7 linked regions of the Homo sapiens genome follow. The protein of the gene in region 1 interacts with the protein of each later gene in a pairwise test. Each region holds a gene or a part of one and is shown in the gene's direction. Other genes may lie near its edges. The genes, in order: LMO3, BEND7, CTSO, MAP3K9, ACTMAP, CDYL2 and GRB10.

The links.
Region 2: the proteins of LMO3 (region 1) and BEND7 interact in binary tests that used the Homo sapiens proteins (3 or more experiments, as listed by UniProt).
Region 3: the proteins of LMO3 (region 1) and CTSO interact in binary tests that used the Homo sapiens proteins (3 or more experiments, as listed by UniProt).
Region 4: the proteins of LMO3 (region 1) and MAP3K9 interact in binary tests that used the Homo sapiens proteins (3 or more experiments, as listed by UniProt).
Region 5: the proteins of LMO3 (region 1) and ACTMAP interact in binary tests that used the Homo sapiens proteins (3 or more experiments, as listed by UniProt).
Region 6: the proteins of LMO3 (region 1) and CDYL2 interact in binary tests that used the Homo sapiens proteins (3 or more experiments, as listed by UniProt).
Region 7: the proteins of LMO3 (region 1) and GRB10 interact in binary tests that used the Homo sapiens proteins (3 or more experiments, as listed by UniProt).

The regions. Positions count from the first base shown.
Region 1 is NC_000012.12:16,557,663-16,561,162, reverse strand, and holds part of LMO3 (LIM domain only protein 3), read left to right. Parts: intron 1-624; coding exon 625-750; intron 751-3,500.
Region 2 is NC_000010.11:13,498,015-13,501,514, reverse strand, and holds part of BEND7 (BEN domain-containing protein 7), read left to right. Parts: intron 1-835; exon of another isoform or gene 836-1,005; intron 1,006-1,434; coding exon 1,435-1,737; coding exon of another isoform or gene 1,738-1,776; intron 1,777-3,500.
Region 3 is NC_000004.12:155,943,867-155,947,366, reverse strand, and holds part of CTSO (cathepsin O preproprotein), read left to right. Parts: intron 1-3,500. UniProt on the Homo sapiens protein: Proteolytic enzyme possibly involved in normal cellular protein degradation and turnover.
Region 4 is NC_000014.9:70,740,014-70,743,513, reverse strand, and holds part of MAP3K9 (mitogen-activated protein kinase kinase kinase 9), read left to right. Parts: intron 1-922; coding exon 923-1,163; intron 1,164-3,349; coding exon 3,350-3,472; coding exon of another isoform or gene 3,473-3,500. UniProt on the Homo sapiens protein: Serine/threonine kinase which acts as an essential component of the MAP kinase signal transduction pathway. Plays an important role in the cascades of cellular responses evoked by changes in the environment.
Region 5 is NC_000019.10:40,740,478-40,743,977, reverse strand, and holds the end of ACTMAP (actin maturation protease), read left to right. Parts: coding exon of another isoform or gene 1-2; coding exon 3-73; intron 74-1,207; coding exon 1,208-1,545; 3' UTR 1,546-1,788; coding exon of another isoform or gene 1,789-1,905; 3' UTR 1,906-2,113; coding exon of another isoform or gene 2,114-2,273; 3' UTR 2,274-2,538; coding exon of another isoform or gene 2,539-2,758; 3' UTR 2,759-3,117; downstream 3,118-3,500. UniProt on the Homo sapiens protein: Actin maturation protease that specifically mediates the cleavage of immature acetylated N-terminal actin, thereby contributing to actin maturation.
Region 6 is NC_000016.10:80,682,599-80,686,098, reverse strand, and holds part of CDYL2 (chromodomain Y-like protein 2), read left to right. Parts: intron 1-969; coding exon 970-1,561; intron 1,562-3,500.
Region 7 is NC_000007.14:50,667,897-50,671,396, reverse strand, and holds part of GRB10 (growth factor receptor-bound protein 10), read left to right. Parts: intron 1-1,533; coding exon 1,534-1,675; intron 1,676-3,500.

The DNA.
Region 1 (3,500 bases):
GACAGTATATTATCCTTCAATTTCTGGTCTAGCTATATATAGTTTACAGCCTCATTTACTTTAATGTGCTACTTGAATAACATAATCATAGCTATAACTATGGTATAGAGCCATAAGGTGCATGCATGCGCCTCTATGTTTTTTGACTATTTAAATGGCTTCTTCATAAATGTATTTTTAATAATAATGGCAAACCTTTTAGTAACTAAATGTCAAAAAGTAGTGAATCATTCATTAGTTGGTTCCTTTCCCAACTAAAATGTTTAATATATAACATTAAGAGCAAAGTTATATTGCTTTTATATTTTCTATATACTCTAACCCAGAGATTTTTGCTATGAATTCACCCCCATTGACTTCTGTTTATGTGCAGTTACGTAAGCTTCCTAATGTATTTGTCTTTTCCTTTTCTTCTCAAACAAGATGTGATTTTCATCAAGGAAGGTCAACGGAGAATATATTGCAGAAGAATATTTATGCATACACCTAGGATAAAATCCACTTGTGTACATCATAAAGCATTGTGTATTGTAGCTTTACAGAGTATATTAACATCATCTCTCTTCACGATCTCAGATTTCTCTGTAAGAGTTTGTAAAAAAAAAAAAATGTTTCTTATTCTAGGCTCTTTGGTGTAACGGGAAACTGCGCTGCCTGTAGTAAGCTCATCCCTGCCTTTGAGATGGTGATGCGTGCCAAGGACAATGTTTACCACCTGGACTGCTTTGCATGTCAGCTTTGTAATCAGAGGTAAGCAGGTCTCTTTTTGGTCTCTAAGAAATGGTTAACCTCTCTGTGCTGGCTATTTATTTAATAGGTGGAAATTATATTCATACATTTAAAGCAATCAATCTCAGCGTTTTTCTGTTCTGTAAACTTTAATCCCATGCCAGAGACAAGCTACTAAGGAGAAGAAAGGTCTTAAGACTTACTTCTACCTGAAAGAAAAGCATCATATAAGAGCAAGTAACAGAAAATGGAAACACTACCGTAAACTCTGACTTCTTTTACTCATTCCTTCTTTTATTATTTTCCTGTCTTTTTAAAAGTAGTTTTAAATATCTACTTTTTTATACTACTTATGTGAGTAAATAAATTGGCAATGAAGCAAATATACAGGAATTTGTTGCAGGTATTTTATATTCTTATTATTTTTTATATTTTAAATTCCTTATCCCTCATGTTTTTGTTTTTGCTTTTTTAAATACAAGGTCTGGTTCTGTCACCCAGCCTAGAGCGCAGTGGCACTAACATGGCTCATGCAGCCTCAACTTCTGTGCTCAAGCAATCCTCCTGCCTCAGCCTCCCGAGTAGCTGGGAGTACAGGTGTGCACTCCCATGCCTGGCTAATTTTTTTTTTTTTTCATTTTTTATAGAGATGATGGAGTTTCACTATGTTACCCAGGCTGGTCTCAAACTCCTGGCCTCAAGCAATCCTCCCACCTCCACCTCCCAAAGTGCAGGGATTATAGGCATGAGCCACCACCCCCACCCAATCTAGCTGTTTACCTTAAATTTTAACCCTGTCCTATATGTACTTTTGCAGTTACTTCAAATATCTTTGAGAATCAGTCCAGATATAGCTAATAATTAAACAATTATTATCATTGGAGAGGAGCATTTGAAAAAGTGTTGAACAGGGAACCTGGAAACCTAAATTCTAATATGGGCTCTGCCACTAATAAGCTGTGCGATCTTAAACCAAACAAACACCTTCCCTCTCTGGACCTCAGGTTTTTCATTTGTAACATATGAAGCTGGATTAGTTCATCTCAGAGAATTCTTTCAGCTGAAAAGTATTATCACTTAATTCCATTTTTTCTTATTGAAAGTTATATTTTTTATTTCTGTGAAAACTATATACTACTGGCACCTGTTTTATATGATAAATGGAGAGGATTTTAGAACATTAAAATGTACGTATTAAAAATACAACATTTCAAAAATTAGAACACTTGATAGATTTTAATGAAAATGAATTCACTGACTTTCTGTGAGAACACCTGGCAGAGTATATAATCAATAAATATTAGTTGCATCAAGTTCTCAGTTATTGTAATTTACTCTGAAAGGTACTATTTGATGCAGAATCTTCTTATGAGACCCTGTAGAATAGTAGAAAGAATGTGACATTTCTAGTGAGAACGGGATTCAAATTTCAGCACCACCATATATTAGCTGATATATTAGCTGTGTGATCTTGAGTATGTTACTTAATCTCTCTGAATTTGATTCCCACACCCATAAAATAGAAACACTAACACCTCTCTTGCAGAGTTTGAAACTTAAATGAAATAATTAATTTATATTAAATGTCAGGAACACAACAGGTTCTCAAAAGTTAGTTATCTTTATAATTTACCAAATAATATTCCATTAACTTGACTTTCCCACAAGGCATGTATCACAATAGTGTTTCTTGCTAAATGTAGATATTCAGATTGTTGCCTAATGTACCTTATAATGTAATAGTTACCCAGACAGTCATGTAAGATGTTATCTTACAATGTCTTGACTCTTCCCAGCAAGTACTGAGAATCAAAGTAAGTTCATTCAGTCTAGGGTAACATTTAGACGAAAATAAATTGGCAAATGCACATGTTTTTGGTAGGGATAAGGATATACAAACACAAACATTCCCACATCCATACAGACACCTTTATGTGCATGTATATATGTATTTTATACATTTTAAAGGTGTCTTAGTAGTAAATTTAGAATACTTTTGTTGACTTGTCATGTTGATCAACTAATAGCAGCCAGTAACCATGCAGTTCCCATTATGGAATCATAAAGTCATTGCTTTTCTACTTATAAAAGATTACATATTCATAGTAGGAAATTTAGAAAATAGAAAATGATAAAAACAAGACATTGTCCCATGTCTCATTCTTCTAAAAGAAAACATTTTAATATTTTGATATATAGCCAGCCATACATGTTCCTATGTCTATAGGACAAATGACATTGTATAAATATTACACTCACATTTAAGCAAATTAAAGTTACAAGGGAGAATCCTAATGTTTGATATTTGGACTTTTTCACTCAATTTATATTTTGTGCCTTTTTTACCTGCCATTAAAAATTCTTTTAAGATATTTTAAGCTTTTCTGAGTTCAGCTTTATGGACAGAGCTTCACATATGTCTTCTATCATCAGATATATAAGTTGTATCTTCAAAAGTTTTTGTGCTGTAAATATTATCAGTATTATCAATATAAAAATGGACCTTATGAGACCCTGTAGAATAGTAGAAAGAATGTGACATTTATAGTGAGAAGAGATTCAGATTTCAGCACCACCATATAGTAGCTGATATATTAACTGTGTGATCTTGAGTATGTTACTTAATCTCTCTGAATTTGATTCCCACACCTACAAAATAGAAACACTAATACCTCTCTTGCAGAGTCTGAAACTTCAATAAAATAATTTATGTTAAATGTCAGGAACACAACTGGTTCTCAAAAGTTAGTTATTTTTATAATTTACCAAAT
Region 2 (3,500 bases), on another chromosome or scaffold:
TTCATCTTTATGAAGATACTGGCTGATGCACAGTTTAAGAAGATAGTGTGTTTGAAATAGCTCCTAACAGATATCAGCATCCTCTGATATTATTATTGATAGAAAATATTTTCTTTTTCTTTTTTTTTTTTTTTTTTTTTGAGATGGAGTTTCACTCTTGTTGCCTAGGCTGGAATGCAATGGTGCCATCTTGGCTCACCACAACTTCTACCTCCTGGGTGAGCCGGGTTCTCCTGGCTCAGCCTTGTGAGTAGCTGGGATTACAGGCATGTGCCACCACGCCTGGCTAATTTTGTATTTTCAGTAGAGACAGGGTTTCTCCATGTTGGTCAGGCTGGTCTCGAACTCCCGACCTCAGGTGATCTACCCGCCTCGGCCTCCCAAAGTGCTGGGATTACAGGCGTGAGCCACTGTGCCCGGCCAAAAAGATTTTCTATCTGTGCAATATTACAGACATCTTTAATATTTATTAAGTACTCCCAGTGCAGTATAGAAGTTCTTTCATTTTAAAAAAATGTCCTGAGACGGGAGAAAAATCTTAAAAAAAGAAGTCAGTGTAGGTGAAGTGGGATTTCAAAGTGGCCTGTGACCTTTCGCACACAGTTACGCTGCAGGGGAGGTGGCAGTGCGTTTGGCATGGGAGGAGGGCACGGTGGGGAGGTTGCACTTCCGCCCTTCCAGTGCTGGTACCGCCAGTGACCTCGAGTGGCAGGGACCCCTCGGTCATCACCAGGCTGATGTGATGGGAGTCAGAGTGCCAGAAAGACAAAACCCCCTCGCTTGCCATGCTGCCACACTCGGCGCCTCTCTGTCTCCTCGGCCGTCCTCTCTGAAGGTGATGTCTCCAGCGGCAGCGTGTCATCCTGGAGGACATTGTGTCAGCAGTGAAGCCCTGCATCCCTGCCAGTCATCCTGAAGGACATTGTGTCAGTAGTGAAGCCCTGCGTCCCTGCCAGTCCAGGCTTTCTTCCTTGTCCTTGCCCCGCCTGGTGAAGCTGACAGACAGTGAGCAGAGCGCTTTAGTGACCTGCCCATTCCTCACGGGTGGCTGTGGCCCATCAGAGCAGAGGGGTTCCGCGGTCCAGTTCTATCCTTGACCTTCTGTCTCAGCCTGTTTCCTCATCACCTACTCATTCAGAAAATGCTTCCAAAGAGGGAATGTCATGTTTGTTCCTGATGACACACTCTCAAGAAACCTCTTTCATCATAAGCGACTTGCAGAAAGAGATTAAAATGAGAGGCACCAGGAATAGGATGGGTTTTTTCAGACCGTAGTCAGTTTTCCTGCCTTTGCGTTTTACAGATTAAGTTCATAGAGTCAGTCATCTTTCCCATTTCCAAAGAAGGGTTGTTTTTCTTTCTCTTCTTTTTGGTTAGTGAACTGTTTTCTCTTTCACTAATTTAGAGTGCTAACTTTGGCCCTGTTTCCATTAGGAGATGAAAGCATGGAAATAAAAAAGCAAATTACAGGGATGAGAAGATTGCTGAACGACAGCACTGGGCGGATCTATCAGCGAGTTGGCAAAGAAGGAGAGAAACTAAAAGAAGAGCCCCAGGACCTGGATTTAGTCTGGCCTCCACGTTTGAACTCCTCTGCTGAGGCCCCGCAAAGCCTCCACCCGTCTTCACGTGGTGTGTGGAATGAGCTACCGCCCCAGAGTGGACAGTTCTCAGGGCAGTATGGCACCCGTTCTAGAACCTTCCAAAGCCAGCCCCACCCTACCACGAGCTCCAATGGTATGGTTGTCAACAAACATTCAGAAGGCTCTCATGGGGGTTTGTACTGTTCTATTTCTAAATATTCAGTGTGTTGAGTTCAATTTATTAAACCCTCCCATAATTACCTGCCTTTGCTGAGTTACTTTAAAAGACAGGGAGACACAAAGGAAAGAGTTGAAGACTATTAAAAAACAGAATTGAGAATTAGGAAAGACAGGGGGTTCTATGTTATAAGTGAAGATTTCCTGGTAGAGATTTTAGCCCTTTAAGAGGTTAAAGCGATCATTTTGTGCCCATGTATGGATATTATTGTCACAAAAAAAACCTGAACATTAGGGCAGAAAGAGCTCCCCACTGTCTTTAAAAGAAGCTTCCTGGTCCTATGGTGTGTTACTAACATATCCTCTTGGTTACTCCTTCACCTTACTCATTATCAGAAGAGTCCCAGATAAAGGCGGGGGCGGACAGGGGTGGGGGGCCGATAACCCAGCATCCCACGTCAGTACTGAACCCAGTGATCCATATTTTGTAACATGCTTCATTAGCAATGGAAAGTATTCCTTTAAAGTAAAATTTTCTTAATTTAAGTTTCCTAATTGTTAAGAAAAGAATCAAATGACAATTTTTTTTCAAAGCTTAAGGAGAAAAACCTGATGCTTTTTGTGGTCATATTAGTTTTCTATCCGGCCACACTGGATGCTATAATATTTGTTCTATAAACTCTGTAGAGATGTGCAGATCTATAGTTTTCACAAAGAGAACAAGAAAAAGGTAAGAAAGCATTTTCAGTTTCCTTAAGAAGTTAAGGATTTTTTTCCATTCATTTTCATTTCACAATATCCTTCAAGAAAAAGAGAACTGTTTTGACTTTTTTTAAAAACACAATTTGTGGTTCAGAGGCATGAAAAGCCATCCTGAGACATTGATGAGACAGCGAAGGACCCCAGAAATGTATGGGTGTCTTCTCTGCCTCTCAGTAGTACATAAGCCAGTATCAAAGTTCCAATGCTGGCATGCCTCCAGGTTAGAGGGACACAGCTCTTTAAAGACTCCTCCATAAAAATAAAAAGTCAGTTCTCTTTAAAATTAGAAAATGATTTATAACAAGCTGAAAAGGGTTGGTTTTGTCTTCTAAAAATGATAAAAGATGGTACTTAGAATAGTGACTAGAAATATTCTTTAAGACCTTTCTAACTCTACTACCATGGAAGAGACAATAAGAGAAATAAAATACCCTTAGGTATGTATGAAGTTAATAAACCCCACATCAGTAAGTTTTGGGTGAACAGTGTTCTGTTTCCCAGTATACAGTAGGGACAGTGGATTTACTTTGAAAAGTATGAAGTTAGTAAAAGTTACAAACATAAATTCCCCCATATCAGTTTGAAAATAGATATTTTATGTTTTCAATAGAAATATGGCTAGGCGTGGTGGCTCGTGCCTGTAGTCCTAACGCTTTGGGAGGCCGAGATGAGTGGATTGCTTGAGGCCAGGAGTTCGAGACCAGCCTGGCCAACATGGCGAAACCCCATCACTACTAAAAAATACAAAAATTAGCCGGGCGTGGTAGCGCATGCATGTAGTCCCAGCTACTTGGGGGGCTGAGGCATGAGAAGCGCTTGAGCCTGGGAGGCAGGGGTTGCAGTGAACCAAGATCATACCAGTGCACTCCAGCCTGTGCAGCAGAGCGAGACCCTGTCTCAAAAAAAAAAAAAAAAAAAAAAGAAAAAGAAATATATTACATATAACTGTGACTACTTTGGTATTTCATTGGGATTATT
Region 3 (3,500 bases), on another chromosome or scaffold:
AGAGGATGAGAGTATTTTAACTGAGCATTTATTTTGCCAGTCTCTGTAATAAGTGTTTTCCAATTATTATTTTATTTCATCCTTACATTCTTCCAGATCAGTATTACTCCATTTGTTGATGGAAATAAAGCTCAGAGAGGTTGATTATATAGCCAAAAATTGCACAGCAATGGTAAGACATTTCAAATTGTTGCAAAGTTAAAAAGAGGCCAGGCGCAGTGGCTCATGCCTGTGATCCCAGCACTCTGAGAGGCTGAGGCGGGCAGACCACGAGGTCAGGAGATTGAGACCATCCTGGCTAACACGGTGAAACCTCATCTCTACTAAAAAAAATACAAAAAAAATTAGCCGGGCATTGTGGCGGGTGCCCGTAGTCCCAGCTACTCGGGAGGCTGAGGCAGGAGAATGGGGTGAACCCGGGAGGCGGAGCTTGCAGTGAGCTGAGATCACGCCACTGCACTCGCCTGGGCGACAGAGCGAGAATCCGCCTCAAAATAATAATAATTATTATTATTACGCTGTGTTCAGAAGCCTCCAAGGAAGTACTTTTAATGTTATTAATGGTTTTGCAAAATCAAAACAAGTGGGTAGAGATTAGTGGTAGGGAGAGGACGAAGCAGAGCACTTAGTGGTTTAGAGTATTTTGCTGTTGGCAGGAAGTCAACAATTTGTATAAAGATTGAGTAGCCCTGACATGGGCTATGGAGAGCTGTGAAATGACAGGAGTCATTACACCAGAATAGCAAATGGAATTCTTTTAGAAGTTGGCTCCTGGTTGAACAAGTGGAAGACAGCAACATTTTCAGAAGTCCTGCAGACACTAGTGCCGCTGACATAAAGAACAGTGTATCAAGTGGTAACAAATAGAAAATATATGTGGAGATATTTGTCTTTTCAAACACATGGCACAAGACCAAAACCAAGTAACTGTTATTGGAATCATCATTGAAAATTAGGGACATAAATATTTAAAATAAATAAATAATACATTCATTTATTTCATTATTAAATTGGTGTTATTATAACTACTTCACAACCGGAACACCTAAACTTTGGATGGTGAAATGACACTTATAAGGCAACACAAAAATTAAGAGAAGTACATGGGAACTCCCTGCCAACGATGTATAAGTTTGTTTCATCTGGCATTTGCCAACTTGAGTGGCAATATATTGTTTCTCTCGTAGATGTCACAAATGATCTAGTGAGATAAACTTGCATTAGCTCTCCAACTAAATAGAGTATGTGGCTCAACTACTGCCTCCCCTCCCAGACACACGTGTAGAACCCACACGTACAGCATTGCCTACACTCAAGAGTCTAAAATCCATTCCTAGAATTAGATTTTCTTAATTAAACAATTTGTGTAATTTTAAGGATCTTGAAAGGGCGTACCAGTCTATACCTCATGTGCGTGCGTATGTGTGTGTGTGCGCATTTGGTGTGGTGTGGTGTGTGTGTGGTATATTCCTTTTTTGTTCTGTTAATATGGTGTATCGTACTGATGATTGATTTTGAAATTTTAAACCAACCTAGCATTTCTAAATAAACTTCACTTGGTCACAATATATTGTCCTTAACATATATTGTTAGATTTGATTTGCTATTTTGTTAAGGATTTTGTGTCTACAGCGTATTTATGAGGGATACTGGTATGTAGTTCTATTTTATTTAGATACATTTTTCTGGTTTAGAATCAGGGTAACACTGGTCTTATTTAAGTTGCAGCGTATTCCCTTCTTCTTGATTTTCTCAAAGGATAATATTGGTATTACTTCTTTCTTCATTGTATAAAGTTCACCAAAAAGCCACCTGGGCCTGAAGTTTTCTTTGTGAGTCAGTTTTCACTTACAAATTTAATGCCTTTAGCTGATAAAAGGCTGCTCAAGTTTTCTATTTCTCCTTTCATCTTTGGCAATCTGTGCCTTGCAAAAAGTTTGTCCATTTTGTACAGTTTGCCAATTTATTGTCATAAAGTTGTCAAAATATTATTCTTCTAATGCCTGAAGCATCTGTAATCATGGCTCTTCTTTCATTCCTAATATTGGTAAATTGGTTATTCATGTCTTCTCATTCTTTTCTTATTTTTTATTTATTTATTTATTTTTTTGAGTTGGAGGCTCGCTCTGTCGTCCAGGCTGGAGTGCAGTGCTGTGATCTCGGCTCACTGCAACCTCCGCCTTCCAGGTTCAAGCGATTCTCCTGCCTCAGCCCCCTGAGTAGCTGGGATTATAGGCGCCCACCACCACGCCCGGCTAATTTTTGTATTTTTAGTAGAGACAGGCTTTCACCATGTTGGCGAGGCTGGTCTCGAACTCCTGACCTCAGATGATCCACCGACCTCAGCCTCCCAAAGTGCTGGGATGACAGGTGTGAGCCACTGCTCCCAGGCTTTTTTTTTTTTTTTTTTTAATCAATCACAGGAGCAATTCCTGTGAACTAATAGGGAGAGGTCCAGGTAGAGCTATCTGATTGCAATGTAATTCTGACCCTGAGTGAAGGAAAAAAGGAAGGAAGACTGGGGAAGAGTTCCATGCTGTCTCACAGTCCAAGGAAACTTTGGTTTGGCAAGGCCATCAGGGAGTCATTAATCAAAAACCAGCTGTCAGGGGAGTCCCATTTGTCTCCCAAATAGCAAGCCTTAGCACTAAGTCATGAGCTAGGTGCAGCCCGTAAGAACTGTGGCTTCCCTTGGTGTGATCATGGAGATTTCAACTAGCAGCAGCTAAACTCCCTATAGAAAGAAGGCTGGGAGGCACATTCTCATGGCTGCCACATTCTCTCCTGTGCATTCTTAACATCCTACATTTTCAGTGCCTTCCTGACTACTCCAGCTCACAAAGATGGCCAGGCAGTACTTATTGAATGAATGAATCCTCTGAATTCCTTAGCAGTTAATAGTCTCTGGCTTATATTTGTCATTTGCCATATACAGAATTACCTTGTATTCTAGTTCTATTTTTACATTTATATATCCAGGTTATATTGAAAGCCTTGCTTCATCAAGATTATTTTAAAGTACCTCAAAAACTTTATTAATTTGTTGATTAGCAATCTTCCTAGGTATGCACAAAAGGAAAAAAAATAAGATTATGACAACTTCCAGCAATAATTTACTTAAAAATAAACAGCTTAAAGTTATTAAGGGCATGATATGGAAAATGTCACTTATCTATTTATTCAACAACAAACACTTATCAAGGATCTATTGTGTGTCAGCCATGTGCTAAGTGAGTGTCTCACCATAAGGAATAAGACATATAAGCAGTCATCATTTTGCTTATAGGTTTTTGATACAGACACACAATAAACACATAAGTACATAGACAAATATGTAGAAGCGCTAGGGTTGGAAAGGTACCAAATGATAGCCCCCTGAAATTTTATTTATTCTATGTAATTGGTTAGTATTACGAAATTGAAGCATGTTTATATATAAAAGATAAGCTTAAGATAAATTGTCACAAAATTCAAAGTTGAGAAATCAGTAAATAATGGTC
Region 4 (3,500 bases), on another chromosome or scaffold:
TCTTGTAAATTTGTTTAAGTTCTTTGTAGATTCTGGATATTAGCCCTTTGTCAGATGGATAGATTGCAAAGTTTTCTCCCATTCTGTAGGTTGCCTATTCACTCTGATGATAGTTTCTTTTGCTGTGCAGAAGCTCTTTAGTTTAATTAGATCCCATTTGTTAATTTTGGCTTTTGTTGCCATTGCATTTGGTGAAAAAACATCTTTTATATAATAGAAAAAATTTGGCTTGTCGCAGTGACTCACGCCTGTTATCCTAGCACTTTGAGAGGCTGAGGCCGATGGATCACTTGATGCCAGGAGTTTGAGACCAGCCTGGCCAACATGGTAAAACCTAATCTCTACTAAAATACAAAAAAATTAGCTAGGTTTGGTGGCACATGCCTATAATCTCAGCTACTCCGGTGGCTGAGACATGAAAATCACTTGAATCAGGGATGCAGAGGTTGCAGTGGGCTGAGATCGCACCGCTGCACTCCAACGTGGGTGACAGAATGAGTTGCTGTCTCAAAAAATAGAAAGTAAAGTACAACCAAGTCTGTAAATAAATACATGATTATATTTTCTATTCAAACCTATATATATATATATATATATATATAAATATATATAAATCACAGGCAATTTTAATGAAGAAGGAAGGAGCGACTAGAAACTCTTAGCCCCCATTTCTAGGGCTTGACCTATGGCTTTATCTTCTCTGACTGTCCCGTCAGTATGGCTGTTCTGAGCCTTCCTTTCCCCACCATTCAAGGTGGTCTAATGTTCATTTACCAGCTATCGAGTCCTCTCTCTTCACTGAGCATCATAGGAGAGCTCTCCAGGTCACCATAAGCCCTCTGGGAGCTCTCAGGCCTCACCCCAGAGCCCCTCTGCACTGAGCACCCCAGTCTTTTCTCTGATGGTTCTGCCCATCCTGCAGGAACTTCGCACCTGGGAGGAGGAGCTGACGCGGGCTGCACTGCAGCAGAAGAACCAGGAGGAACTGCTGCGGCGTCGGGAGCAGGAGCTGGCCGAGCGGGAGATTGACATCCTGGAACGGGAGCTCAACATCATCATCCACCAGCTGTGCCAGGAGAAGCCCCGGGTGAAGAAACGCAAGGGCAAGTTCAGGAAGAGCCGGCTGAAGCTCAAGGATGGCAACCGCATCAGCCTCCCTTCTGGTCAGTGGCCGGGGACTGGCTGGGAAGTGGGAGCAGGGCAAAGAACTCGTGTGGCAGAGGGTTTGAGGGAGTCCGGGACTGAGCTTGGAAACATGACACCCTGGGGCTCAAACTCCAGCCTGTTTTAAATGGGCCATTCTGTTCACTGGAAAGACTGGCATGTTGAAAATCTACCCTACTCCAGGGAAATTGTTGCATGTGAGTGAACACAGAATATGAAGTGAGGACAACCCGGCAAGGTCCAGGCTGCTAGAAGCCTGGTGGCTCACAGGGGCACATCTCACTTTAGGCAAACCTGGAGAAGGAAGCATGAAGTTGGGGGAAAACATTCCAGGGTGTGCATGTGTGAGACACGAGAAGTTTTGGCTCTGCAAAATAACTTGTCTCAAGGTTTCTTTTTTTTGAGACAGAGTTTTGCTTTTGTTGCCCAGGCTGGAGTGCAATGACAAGATCTTGGCTCACTGCAACCTCCACCTCCCCGGTTCAAGTGATTCTGCTGCCCCAGGCCCCCGAGCAGCTGGGATTACAGGCGCATGCCACCACGCCCAGCTGATTTTTGTATTTTTAGTAGAGACAGGGTTTCACCCTCAAGTGATCCACCCACCTTGGCCTCCCAAAGTGCTGGGATTACAGTTGTGAGCCACCACTCCTGGCTGACGTTTTTTTAATTAGTCCCCTGAGTGCAGTTGAGACTGGGTTTAATGTATGAGAATTTACATGATAAGATTTACATGTGACCTTTCAGACACACACATCAGTTGAATAAACATGCATTTGTTGTACTGCAGCCTTGGGGAAAATATAAAGAAATATGAAACTATTAATTAGAATCTTTGTGGTGTGTAATATATCCATGGAGGGAGCCGAATGCTAAAATGTGTGTTGATGTAGATAAAGATATTCACTGTGTTCTAAGTCTATGAGGCCCTAGAAAGCAGGCTTATTAGAAGTGTAAGGAACAGGCCAGGTGCAATGGCTCATGCCTATAATCCCAGCACTTTGGGAGGCCGAGGCGGGTGGATCATCTGAGGTCAGGAGTTCGAGACCAGCCTGACCAACATGCAGATACCCCGTCTCTATTAAAAATACAAAATTAGCCGGGCATGGTGGTACATGCCTGTAATCCCAGCTACTCAAGAGGCTGAGGCAGGAGAATTGCTTGAACCTGGGAGGCGGAGGTTGCAGTAAGCGGAGATTGCGCCCTTGTACTCCAGCCTAGGCAACAAGAGTGAAACTCCATCTCAAAAAAAAAAAGTGTAAGGAACAAAGAAAGAATGGTCTAATGGGGCAGGAGTAGATGATGTTAAGCACTAAAATGGTGGCTTAATTAAGTACAGATAAGGGAACTCATTCCATGCAGTTGAGTGAATATGTTTATGAGCCGTGTTTGCTGGTCCCCTTGCTGCACATTTGTTTTTCCTTTTCAGACAGCATGGACTCTTTAAGCACCCTTTGAGCATCTAGCATGTGTCAGCATATTGTTGCATGTCAGGATGCAGATAGAAAAGCTATAGTTCCCACCTGCAGGGAGATCACAGTCTAATGGGGAGACATAGGTGCAAGCAGCAGCTGTTTATTTTACCTCTTTGATAGATGAGGAGACTGAAACTCAGAAATTCAGACCTGTAAGTTTTACATTCTTTATGCTGTACTGTAACTTCCTTTGGAATGTGTCCGAATTGGAGCCATTTGCTCCATCTCCCTCACTGCCCTAGGTTCCCACAAGGGCTAGTCATTGATACCCTGCTGTGCCTGCACTTAGTGAGAAGAATCAGTGTCCCTGCTTCAGTCCCTGAGAAAAGAGGACCAAATCTATCTGATAATAGATTATGTGAAACCAATAATTTTAAGTTAAATTTCCTAGAATAATCAACAACATCTCATGAGCTAAACAGCTATTCTTAATACATAACTGCTTGAACTATATTCATTATATAGACAGCTTTATGAAGCTCACAGATGAAGTTCACTTGCACAGTGAATTTTCCATCTTTTTATACGTTCATCTCCCCATGTCCCTTGGGAAAAAGAGATGATTCTAAAAGAGAACATTTCCCAGGTGAACAAAGAGCTTTTCAGGAAACTGGGGCCTGTCCCTCAAGGATGCTGAGGAATGTCATATTTCTTATATGAATTTAATTATGGGAAATGTTAATGCATACACGTGTTTGTCTTTCCCCAAGCAGATTTCCAGCACAAGTTCACGGTGCAGGCCTCCCCTACCATGGATAAAAGGAAGAGTCTTATCAACAGCCGCTCCAGTCCTCCTGCAAGCCCCACCATCATTCCTCGCCTTCGAGCCATCCAGTGTGAGACTGTTTCCCAAATTAGCTGGGG
Region 5 (3,500 bases), on another chromosome or scaffold:
AGCTACGACGAGGACTTCAACCATGAGCCGTGTCAGAGGAAGGGCCACAAGGCACACTGGGCGGTGAGTGCAGGTGGGTTCCCCCTCCTTTGTCTGCACCCCTCAACCTGGGTCTCCCCGGCCTCCATTAATCCTCCTGACATTCTCACCCCTTGTGCTGGTGCCTCCCCAGCCAGGCTGGGCACTTAGCATTAGCACCGGGCAGGCTGGGCCCCAGGTGTCTGCCAGTTGGAGCTTCTACAAACAGAAGCTCAGAGCACAGATTTCAGGATCAGACCGTCTGGGCTCCAGGCCTGGCACAGCCTCTTCTAGGCTCTGTGACTCTGGGCAGGTATCATCACCTCTCTGGACAGCTCCTTTCCCCATCTGGAAATTGGGGGTAACAGTACCCACCTCATAAGGCTGCCTTGTAGGCAGAGCACTCAGCACTCTTAGAACAAGGCTTGGCCAGGCGCGGTGGCTCACGCCTGTAATCCCAGCACTTCGGGAGGCCAAGGTGGGTGGATCGCTTGAGGTCAGGAGTTTGAGACCAGCCTGGCCAACATGGTGATACCCTGTCTCTACTAAAAATACAAAAATTAGCCAGGCGTGGTGGTGTATGCCTGAAATCCTAGCTACTTGGGAGGCTGAAGCAGGAAAATTGCTTGGACCTGGGAGGCGGAGGTTGCAGTGAGCTGAGATCGTGCCACTGCACTCCAACCTGGGTGACAGAGCAAGACTCCATCTCAAAAAAAAAAAAAAAATAGAACAGGGCTTGGCGTGTGACATGTCTCTGTAAGTATTACCAGCACCGTTTTCATCATTCCCCCTGCCTGAAAGAAAGAAGGCCAGGTTGGTCCGCGTCAGGAGGTCCGGGGGAGGCTCCGCTCAGCTTCTTCATGGCTTTGTGGTCTTGACAGCTCCTCTTGGAGCCTCTTCCCTAAAGAGCTGAGGATGACCGGGTGACGGCATTTGCTTCATCTCATGCTGCCTCCCCACCTCCCCTGTGCTCAGGCCAGATGAGGCAAGACTTAAAACACCTACAGCTTTGGAGCCGGGTGCCACGGTGGGTCCAAATCCCAACCCACTGGCCACCACTAACGTCACCGTAACCTAGGAATGGCAGCTGCACCCACCCTGGAGGGCCGGGAGAGGGCGGAACTTAGTGAGCCCCAGCACCTGGTCCTGGCTCAGTCACTGCCACTCACCACCTTCTCCTCTCCCCCAGGGGTCCTGCTGGGTGTTCGGGCTGTGCCCAGTCTCGGCTACACTGAGGACCCTGAGCTGCCGGGCCTGTTCCACCCAGTGCTGGGCACGCCCTGCCAACCACCATCCCTGCCAGAGGAGGGCTCCCCGGGAGCTGTCTACCTGCTGTCCAAGCAGGGCAAGAGTTGGCACTATCAGCTGTGGGACTACGACCAGGTCCGGGAGAGCAACCTGCAGCTGACGGACTTCTCGCCCTCACGGGCCACTGACGGCCGGGTGTACGTGGTGCCCGTGGGTGGGGTACGGGCTGGCCTCTGTGGCCAGGCCCTGCTCCTCACACCACAGGACTGCAGCCATTAGCTGCGGCTGCGGTCTCAGGCTGCAGCCTAGCTCGGTAACCATTTGAAGTGTGCCTACACTTCTCCCACTGTGTGATGGCGACAAGATTGAAGCTAGGTCTCAGGGGTCTCCAGTCCTCCTTCATCAGGGCCACCCCCTGCAGTATTGAGCACCAGCTGGTCCCTCTAGGGAGAGATTGACAACAGCCCGGACCCTGCGGCCTGCCTATTCCATCTGAATGTCGCATCGTCTGTTTCTCACTAGGGGCCGCCTCTGTCATCTCACTAGACATTTGAGGAACCTCCTGCCTGGGCCCTCTGCTTCTCACAGGACAGGGACACTGAACTGCGTCAGCCTCAGCTCACCCCTCCTTAGCCCAAGGTCTTCCTCATGCTTGCCACCTACTAGTCATACTGGCCTTTTAGATCCCTGAAGTGTTGTTCAAATCCCCGGATCATTGAGTCCCACCCCCAGCCCTCTGCTGCGGATCACTCCTTAACTTTTCCATTGGGGCTCAGGTATCACTACCTCAGGGAAGAGTCCTGCAGCCCCAGTCAAGACACCCCTCCCCCACCTCATGTCTTCACAGTTTTAAAGCCCATCTGGGAGCAGTTACCTGTGCCAGCCCCTCTACCTGTGTTAGCAGATCTGGCAACCCTGTAAGGGGGGTGCTAGATGGACCCGATTTGACAGATGGCAAGACTGAGGCCTGGAGAAGTGGAATCACTGGCCTGAGGTCACATGACTAGCACATGGCAAGGTCAGGATTCAAGCTAGGTAGTCAGTATCTCAGCCAGGCTGTCTCCTGGCTCCCTGAACATTATGGTGCTGACCACAAACTTTCCTGTCCACTTATACAAACTTCTAGTGAGTGTGTGTGATTACTAGCTTCATGAATACCTGACCCCTCCACTCTGAAGGAGGAACAGGCCTGTCTGGATCACTTCTCTGTCCCTAACTGAGCCCATCTCATTTAGGGAAACTACAGAGCACTGTTGCTTTTTTTTTTTTTAGATGGAGTCTCGTTCTGTCGTCCAGGCTGGAGTGCGGTGGCGTGATCTCAGCTCACTCCAGCCTCCACTTCCCAGGTTCAAGTGATTCTCCTGCCTCAGCCCCCCAAGTAACTGGGATTACAGGCATGCACCACCATGCCTGGCTAATTTTTTGTATTTTTAGTAGAGACGGGGCTTTGCCATGTTGGCCAGGCTGGTCTCGAACTCCTGACCTTGAGTAATCCACCCGCCTCGGCCTCCCAAAGTGCTGGGATTACAGGTGTGAGCCACTGAGCCCGGCCACAGTGCAGTATTTCTAACCAGTGATCAGGGTAAAGAGGATGCGTGTCCACCATCCCAGCCCTGATCAGCCTGTCTGTGCATCCCCCATCCCAGCCAGGGCTTGGAGCAGCCTTGCTCACCACTGTGTCCCCTGCATTGTAACACATCCAGGCACAAGAATAGCCGCCCAGTGACTGCCAAGTGAGTGAACCAGCCTGCTTGGAGCCTGCCTCTTTCCCAAACTGCTCATTATCCTGTTACCCCACCCAGCCCACGTGTCCAAATACACTCCAGATGCAAAATAAAAAGCTCTACGACATTGGCTCTGAATGTTCTGTTTATTGGGGTGTTGTCATGGGTAGGAGGCTCAGCAGAGCCATTCTGCCTCCTGCTTCCCAGTACTACCCCGTCCAGCAACTGCCTCTCGTATAAATAAGTATCAAGATGGTCAGTAGAAAAGGAGAGCATCTCCTCAGCCCTGGAAGACAGTGTGGGAGCTTCAGCTTAAGGAAGAGGTAGGTGCCTGTCCGCCAGCCCAGCCTCAAGGGCCAGGAAGACCTGGCTATGGGTGCTGGAGGGGCCGTTAGCCACACCCCAGGGTTCTACAGTCTTTGGTTTGGATCAGGCTGCAGGCCAGGGTCCTGGCTGGCAGCCCCACCCACCCTGCGCCTCTGACACACACCCAGCGCTTTTCCCTGCAGG
Region 6 (3,500 bases), on another chromosome or scaffold:
CTGTGCATGGTAGGCGAGTTGCCTTATATGCAATATCTTCATCTATCAAATGGAAAAATAATAGTGGTGTACACCCACAGGGACATGTGAGGTGCATAGTAGGTACTCAGCAAATGTTACCTATCTCTTTGCCTCCTAGCTGTGCCTCTGTGTTGCAGCTGGGGGAGCTGTGTGGGGAGAGCTGGACATTTTCAGTTCAAGTCCTTTTTGGTCACTGTGGAAGATTTTTGCAGTTAAGAGAGTTAGTATGGCCTAGTGAGTAAGAGAATAAGTCTGAGGTGAGAGTGGTTCAAACCCCAGTTCTGCCCTTACCATTCTGGAACTTGGTTAAGTTACTTGGTCTCTCTGAGCCCTCGTTCTCTGACTGTAAATTGGGGATAGAAAAATATTTACTTCATTGAGTTTTTGTCCACGAGAAAATGAGATGGGAGAGTCTATGCCCAGCATTTAGTATAGTGTCTGGCTCATAAGCACCCAGTGAATGTTAATGATCATTGGTATTGTTATAAGTAAGGATAAATTGGCATAGTACCTCCCATATAATTGCTCAATAAATGTTACTTATTATAAATAAGGATGAAGAACTCACACCAAATTGGTCTTTAATAGCCTGCATCTACTTTGGTGCAATGAAAAGAATAAAGATCTCTTGTGAAACCTTGCAAGGCAATTTCAAATAAAAGTAAGCCTGGATGGACATGTGGCTACCACCAGCTGGGCGTGTCATCTAGCGTCATCATGGGAAATGGCTGCATGTGCCTTAGGTTCCATCCAGTGATGTCGTAAAATAAACCAGCCTTCTTGAACCCTCCTGCCAGTGTTGGCTTCTGGCATTGAATGGCTCGTGGCTCACCCCCTGGCTAGGGTAGATGCCTCTATCCCAAAGGCTTTATGGTGTTCTTGTTGCCTCGAACTGAGTTTTTTCCTCCCTCTCTCTCTGTTTTCTGACCCTCTCATCTTGTATCGCAGGTTGAAAGGATTGTAGACAAGAGGAAGAACAAGAAAGGAAAATGGGAGTATCTTATCCGATGGAAAGGCTACGGGAGCACCGAGGACACGTGGGAGCCGGAGCACCACCTCTTGCACTGTGAGGAGTTTATTGATGAATTCAATGGGTTGCACATGTCCAAGGACAAGAGGATCAAGTCAGGGAAGCAGTCCAGTACCTCCAAGCTGCTGCGTGACAGTCGAGGCCCGTCGGTTGAGAAACTGTCCCACAGACCTTCAGATCCTGGAAAGAGCAAGGGGACCTCCCATAAACGGAAGCGAATTAACCCTCCCCTGGCCAAGCCAAAAAAAGGGTATTCAGGCAAGCCCTCTTCAGGAGGTGACAGGGCCACCAAGACGGTGTCTTACAGGACTACCCCCAGTGGTTTGCAAATAATGCCCCTGAAAAAGTCTCAGAACGGGATGGAAAATGGGGACGCCGGCTCTGAGAAGGATGAGAGGCACTTTGGAAATGGGTCCCATCAGCCTGGCTTGGATTTGAATGATCATGTTGGAGAGCAAGATATGGGTGAATGTGACGTGAATCACGCTACACTGGCGGAGAACGGGCTCGGTTTGTAGCTTTTCTTTCTCTTGGGTTTGGCTCTGGCCATGGCGAAAGGGGAGCTCTGCCTGTAGCCTAGGGACATACATAAGACCCCCACCTCCATCCCCGTCTCTTAGCTAGCCAGCAATTCCCCCTTCATCTCTCTCACCTAGAGCTTTGTGGACTCGGTCGTAGGCCCATGTTGGTTACAGACCCTCATGCATGTGGGGAGGCTAAGCCTCTGATGCTCCAGCCAAGGTCTGGAATGGGTCCAAAGTTCCAGACTCTTATTTCAAGACACCCAAGGCCATGGTAACCCCTCTAGACCCACTTCCCTGAGGGCAGCTCAAGTCCTCACCCCCAGGACCCAAGACACGTGTCCTCAGCGGGCCAGTGCCTCCCAGGGCACAGTGCAGAGCCCTTGCTTGCAGCCTCATCATGCCCCCAGCAGTGTAGCCCAGAGAGGTAGGGTCTGGGTTGGGGTCCGTGCCGTCTTCTCAGACACAGTGTGGACTTGGAGTTCACCACGCCAGTGCCTGTGCTGGAGCCTCTTGTCCTTCTGCTATCTCTAGGTTGGATGATTGACCTATATTAGGTCCTGTCTTAGTCTGTTCAGGCTGCTGTCACAAAACACCTTAGAATGGGTAATTTATGAAAAATGGAAATCTAATTTCTCACAATTCTGAAGGCTAGAAGTCCATGATGAAGGCACCAGCAGATGCTGCATCGGGTGAGGGCCTGTTCCTCTTAGCTGGTGCCTTCTGTGTCCTCACATGATAGAAGGGGCAAGGCAGCGCCCATCAGCCTCTTTTATAAGGGCCACTAATCCCATCCACAAGGATGGAGCTCTTATGACTTAATTACCTCCTAAAGGCCCCTCCTCTTAATGCTGTGACTGTGTTGTGGCTTAGGTTTCTTCATATGAAATTTGGCAGAACATAAATGTTCAGACTGTAGTGGGTCCTAAATGCTGTCTTGACCTCATCCTGCACTAATTCTTTCGATTGGCAGCCTCTTACTCTAACACAGCCTGCATATGTTGTGTTAGGTTATGGAATTCCTCCTTTTTCCAAAGTCTCTGTAGGCAAAATTAAGGAAACAGGAGGTGATGACCCATGTAGTTCATACTCCCAAACATGAGATTTCCTGTGTGGTCACATTGCCCCTTACCTGAGTCCTTCATGGCATCAGTCTTTCAGGTTAGCTGCTTGTGCCAGTTATGTGCAGTCCCTCACTTCTCAGACACCTGTGTGTCTACCTGGTGGCATTTGTCTCTTTGGCTGCCAGAGACCCGAGCCTTGGAATGTCCAGAAATCTTACAGGAGTGTGGACAACCATTGCCCAACAGGGCAGGGCCATCAGATTCCCTGATGAAACCAGGGTGCGTGTGGAGACCGGGATGCTTGGATGCAGGGGGAATGGTTAGAAGGGCTCACAGAAGGTTGGGGTGATGAGGCCAACACACTTCAGTGTGACGATGGTAGATTTGGAGTCCAGAACGTGCAGAGCTGGCTCCCCTGCAAGAGCTTGCTGTCTTTAGGTACTCTTGCTGAGAAATCTGAGCAATCCGTGTTGAGGCTCCTCTTTCTCCAGAGAGAGGAATTTCACCCAAACAGGATTTACTTAGCATCTTTGCCCCAGACTGACTCACGTTTCCGTCTCGGGATCCCTGACGCTGACGTGACTGTGCCTGTGAACATATGTAAAAGCTGTTTGTTTTAGAAATTCATCTCTCGGGGAGAAGTGGGCTCGTGTAAATGGGGCTTGGCATAAACACCCGTGTTTGATGTTGCTGTGACGGCTGCTGGCGGTGGCGGAGTTCCCTGTCTCAGGAAGGGTGGCGAGGGGAGATTTTGTGGCCCTTTGGGTGCAGGGGCAAGGCTCTGGCGGGGTTCCCTGCATTCCAGCTGTTAGCAGCTCCCTGCCCTGCTCATATGGGGCAATCCCAAGAGTAAAGCATGAGGGA
Region 7 (3,500 bases), on another chromosome or scaffold:
AAGTAATACAGTCACAAAATGTGTTTCTGTAGTGGCAAATCTCCTGGGAAAGCTAACGGATTGTTGATTTTGTGAAATCGTAAAAATTGTCAAAAAAATTACTTGAGGACACAGCCTATGATGGGGGTTTCTGAGGTATGTTTAAACATGGGGAGGGATTGGAAATGCCGAGTGAAGATAATGTGAGGTTTGCTCCCCTCTCCTTGAAGGTAGGAGGCTGCAGACAGGGCCGCGTGGCCTCAGGAAGGGTGGAGGAGGCTGTGTGTCCAGGAGTGCCCTGGAGGTGTGGGCCAGAAGTTACTCTACAGAGGGGAGGTGCCAGACACTTGACATTCGCTTTGACTTTGAACTTGATTTCTCTGCTGTTCACAGTTGCTTCTGATTCGTCATACTGTGTGTGTGTTGCATAGTTGTGTGACAAGTGGGTTGTGCATTTTTCGGAGGAGGGAACAGATGCCCCTGGAGATGTGCCAGGAAAGTAGAGGTGGTGTGTGGATTCAGCGTGTGTTTCCAAGGTGTGTTTCTAATGTGGACACAGGCTTTGCGAGGACAGATACATGAAGCTATAATTTCCAGTTAATTCAGTGTCAACAACCTTTTTATATAAGTAACCATCCATTGCATAATTCAGATGAGAACACACAGCCTTTTCTTGTATTTTCATTTGATTAGATTAATGCTCATTTCAAGGACATTGAAAAACACTTGGTTCTCATGAAAATGCTCATATTCAGAAAACTTTCACACATCAGGTATTCACTGATCAAACGGATGAGGTATTTGGAGCTGATGCCATGTCAGGCACTGAATGCTGCCTGAGATGAGCACGCACCCAGGACAACAAAACTTCGGCACCCCGCCCCCCGCCCCCGATGCCTAATGAAGAAGAGAATTGATACCCAATACCCTTTGGGTCTGAGAATGACAACTTGTAATTTTTTTAAAGTTTTCGTTTTAGTAAAATACATGTAACATAAAATTTACCATATTAACTGTTTTTTTCAGGGTACAGTTCGGTAGTATTAATGCACACTCACAATGGTTGTACAATCTCCAGAACTTTCTCATCTTATGAAACTGAAACTCTGTCCCCAATAAACAGCGATTCCCCATTGCCCTCCCCTTAGTCCCCTGGCAGCCACCCTTCTATTTTCTATGGGTTTGAATACACTACCTACCTCACTGGGTGAAATCACACAGTGTCTCTGGTTTTGTGACTGGTGTGTTTGACTCTGCATAATGTCTTCAGGGTTCATCCGTGTCGTAGCCTGTGTCAGAATGTGCTTCCTTTTTCATGGCTGAGTAGTGTTCCATGGTATGGATATGCCACATATTGTTCATCCATTCATCCATCTGCAGACCCTTGGGATGCCTCTACTTTTTGGCTTTTGTGAAGGATGCCACTGTGAACGTGGGCATGCCAGTGACTCCTAGAAGCCCTGTGTCCTGCTTTCTGGGTGTATCACCACAGTGGTAAGGCTGGGTCATGTGGGGAATGGCAGCTTTTAACAGGCACTTATCCCTGCCTTCCAGGCGCCTTCAGGAGGAAGACCAGCAGTTTAGAACCTCATCTCTGCCGGCCATCCCCAATCCTTTTCCTGAACTCTGTGGCCCTGGGAGCCCCCCTGTGCTCACGCCGGGTTCTTTACCTCCGAGCCAGGCCGCCGCAAAGCAGGTGAGTGTGCCCCTGGCTGGAGCCCAGGCTGAGGGATATGCCAGATTATTGGGATCTGCACAGATGTGCCAGATTATTACTTTGGGAAGAAGGGCGGGAAGTCCTGGGATCTTCTCTCTCAGTTCTTTTCTTGTTGTCACAGTACTTGTTGTCCTATGAGGCCGATACAGTTTGGATGTTGTCCCCTCCAAATCCCATGTGGAATTGTAATCCCCAATTTTGGAGGCAGGGCCTGGTGGGAGGTGATTGGATCTTAGGGGTAGATTCCTCATGGCTTGGTGCTGTCCTCACAATAGTAAGTTCTCACGAGATCTGGTTGTTTAAAAGTGCGTGTCATCTCCTCCCCTTGCTCCCACTCCTGCTGTGCGAGACGCCAGTTCCTGCTTTGCCTTCTGGCATGATTGTAAGCTCCTAAGTCCTCATCAGAAGCCGAGCACATGCCCGCACCATGATTCTTGTACAGGCTGCAGAACCATGAACCAATTAAACCTCTTTTCATTATTGATCAAAACTCTGTTTTATCTTTATATTTTAGAAAAAGTCTCATAAAAAATGGCAAATAATAACAATGATTTGATGTTTAAAGATGAATCTTAGTTCTTTGAAAAAGTTTCACCACTGGCTCAATAATAGGTGTGAAAATGCTGGGCTCACCCGGGCACCTGGATGTCAGTACACAGGAGTTGAAGAGTTTCTGTCTTGTAGTCCTGACTTTGAATATGATCTGCCGAAAGCAGAAGAGTTTCCATTGGACCCGCAGGGCAATAACCTCCTTTTTGAACTTGTAGTTTCTACTTAAAGTAGATCCATGAAGTAGATAGGACACAACCATTGTCCCCATATGAGGAAACTGAGGCACAGAGCATTTCAGTAATGTGTCCAAGGTCAAACAGCCAACAAGTCAGCTTAGCAGAGAAACTGGCAGAGAAAGGGGTTGAAAGTTCCTCCCCACCGGTTGGCAGGGCTGTGAGCCAGGATGGGCTGCAGCCTCTGGAGGAAGACCCCTAGGGGTGGAGGTGATCATTAGAACAACTGCGCCATCTGATGTTTATGGAGTGAGGGATTTCTGTGTGCCAGGCCTTGTCGTAAGTGGTGGATATGTTTATTTTTTGTTTATTTATATGTTCATTTACTCCTCATGCCATCCCGTATGAATTAAGTACGCATGTTCCCTCTGTTCCACAGTTGAGGGAAGGGAGGCCCCTGTAAGCAGCTGAGCTGAGTGTGGCTGAGACCTGATGGTGCGGCTGAGTGTGACCCGGCCTCAGAATCGGAGCCTGTGATTGCAGCCACTGTGCTGATTGGCTTCCCGGGACTTTGACTTTCCTTCTGCTAAATGCATATTTAGAAGTCATTTTGCCCTTCTACTTGAATCATCTCTTCTCCCTACTTGCTCTCACTTCCCTACCTTTGCTGTTCTCAAGCAAGACAGGCCAGCCATCCCTTTCTCTGCAAATCTGCCTGTCCTGTGCCATGCAAGGTCTGTCCTCTTGAGAGAGAGACCTTTTTCCAATACCCGCTGGCTCCCAAGTGTGGGTCCCGTTCTGACCTCAGGCCCCCGGAGCAGGCTGCATTATGGCACTATCAAAACTTAGAAGGTGAGGTAAGTGTCCCTCATCTGGGAGCCAGCACTGGCTGGGCTTGTGCACTTTGTCACATGTCTAAAGTGCATCTGGGATGTCTACCTCGCTGGTGACCTTCTGCTTCAAATAAGGATCCAGACAAGCTGTCTGTGGGTTTTGTCACTGAGGTTGTTTACAGAGCTACCCATTCTAAAATAAGACCATGAAAATATTATCTGGCTCTCTCAGCCTTTGGCAAGAAA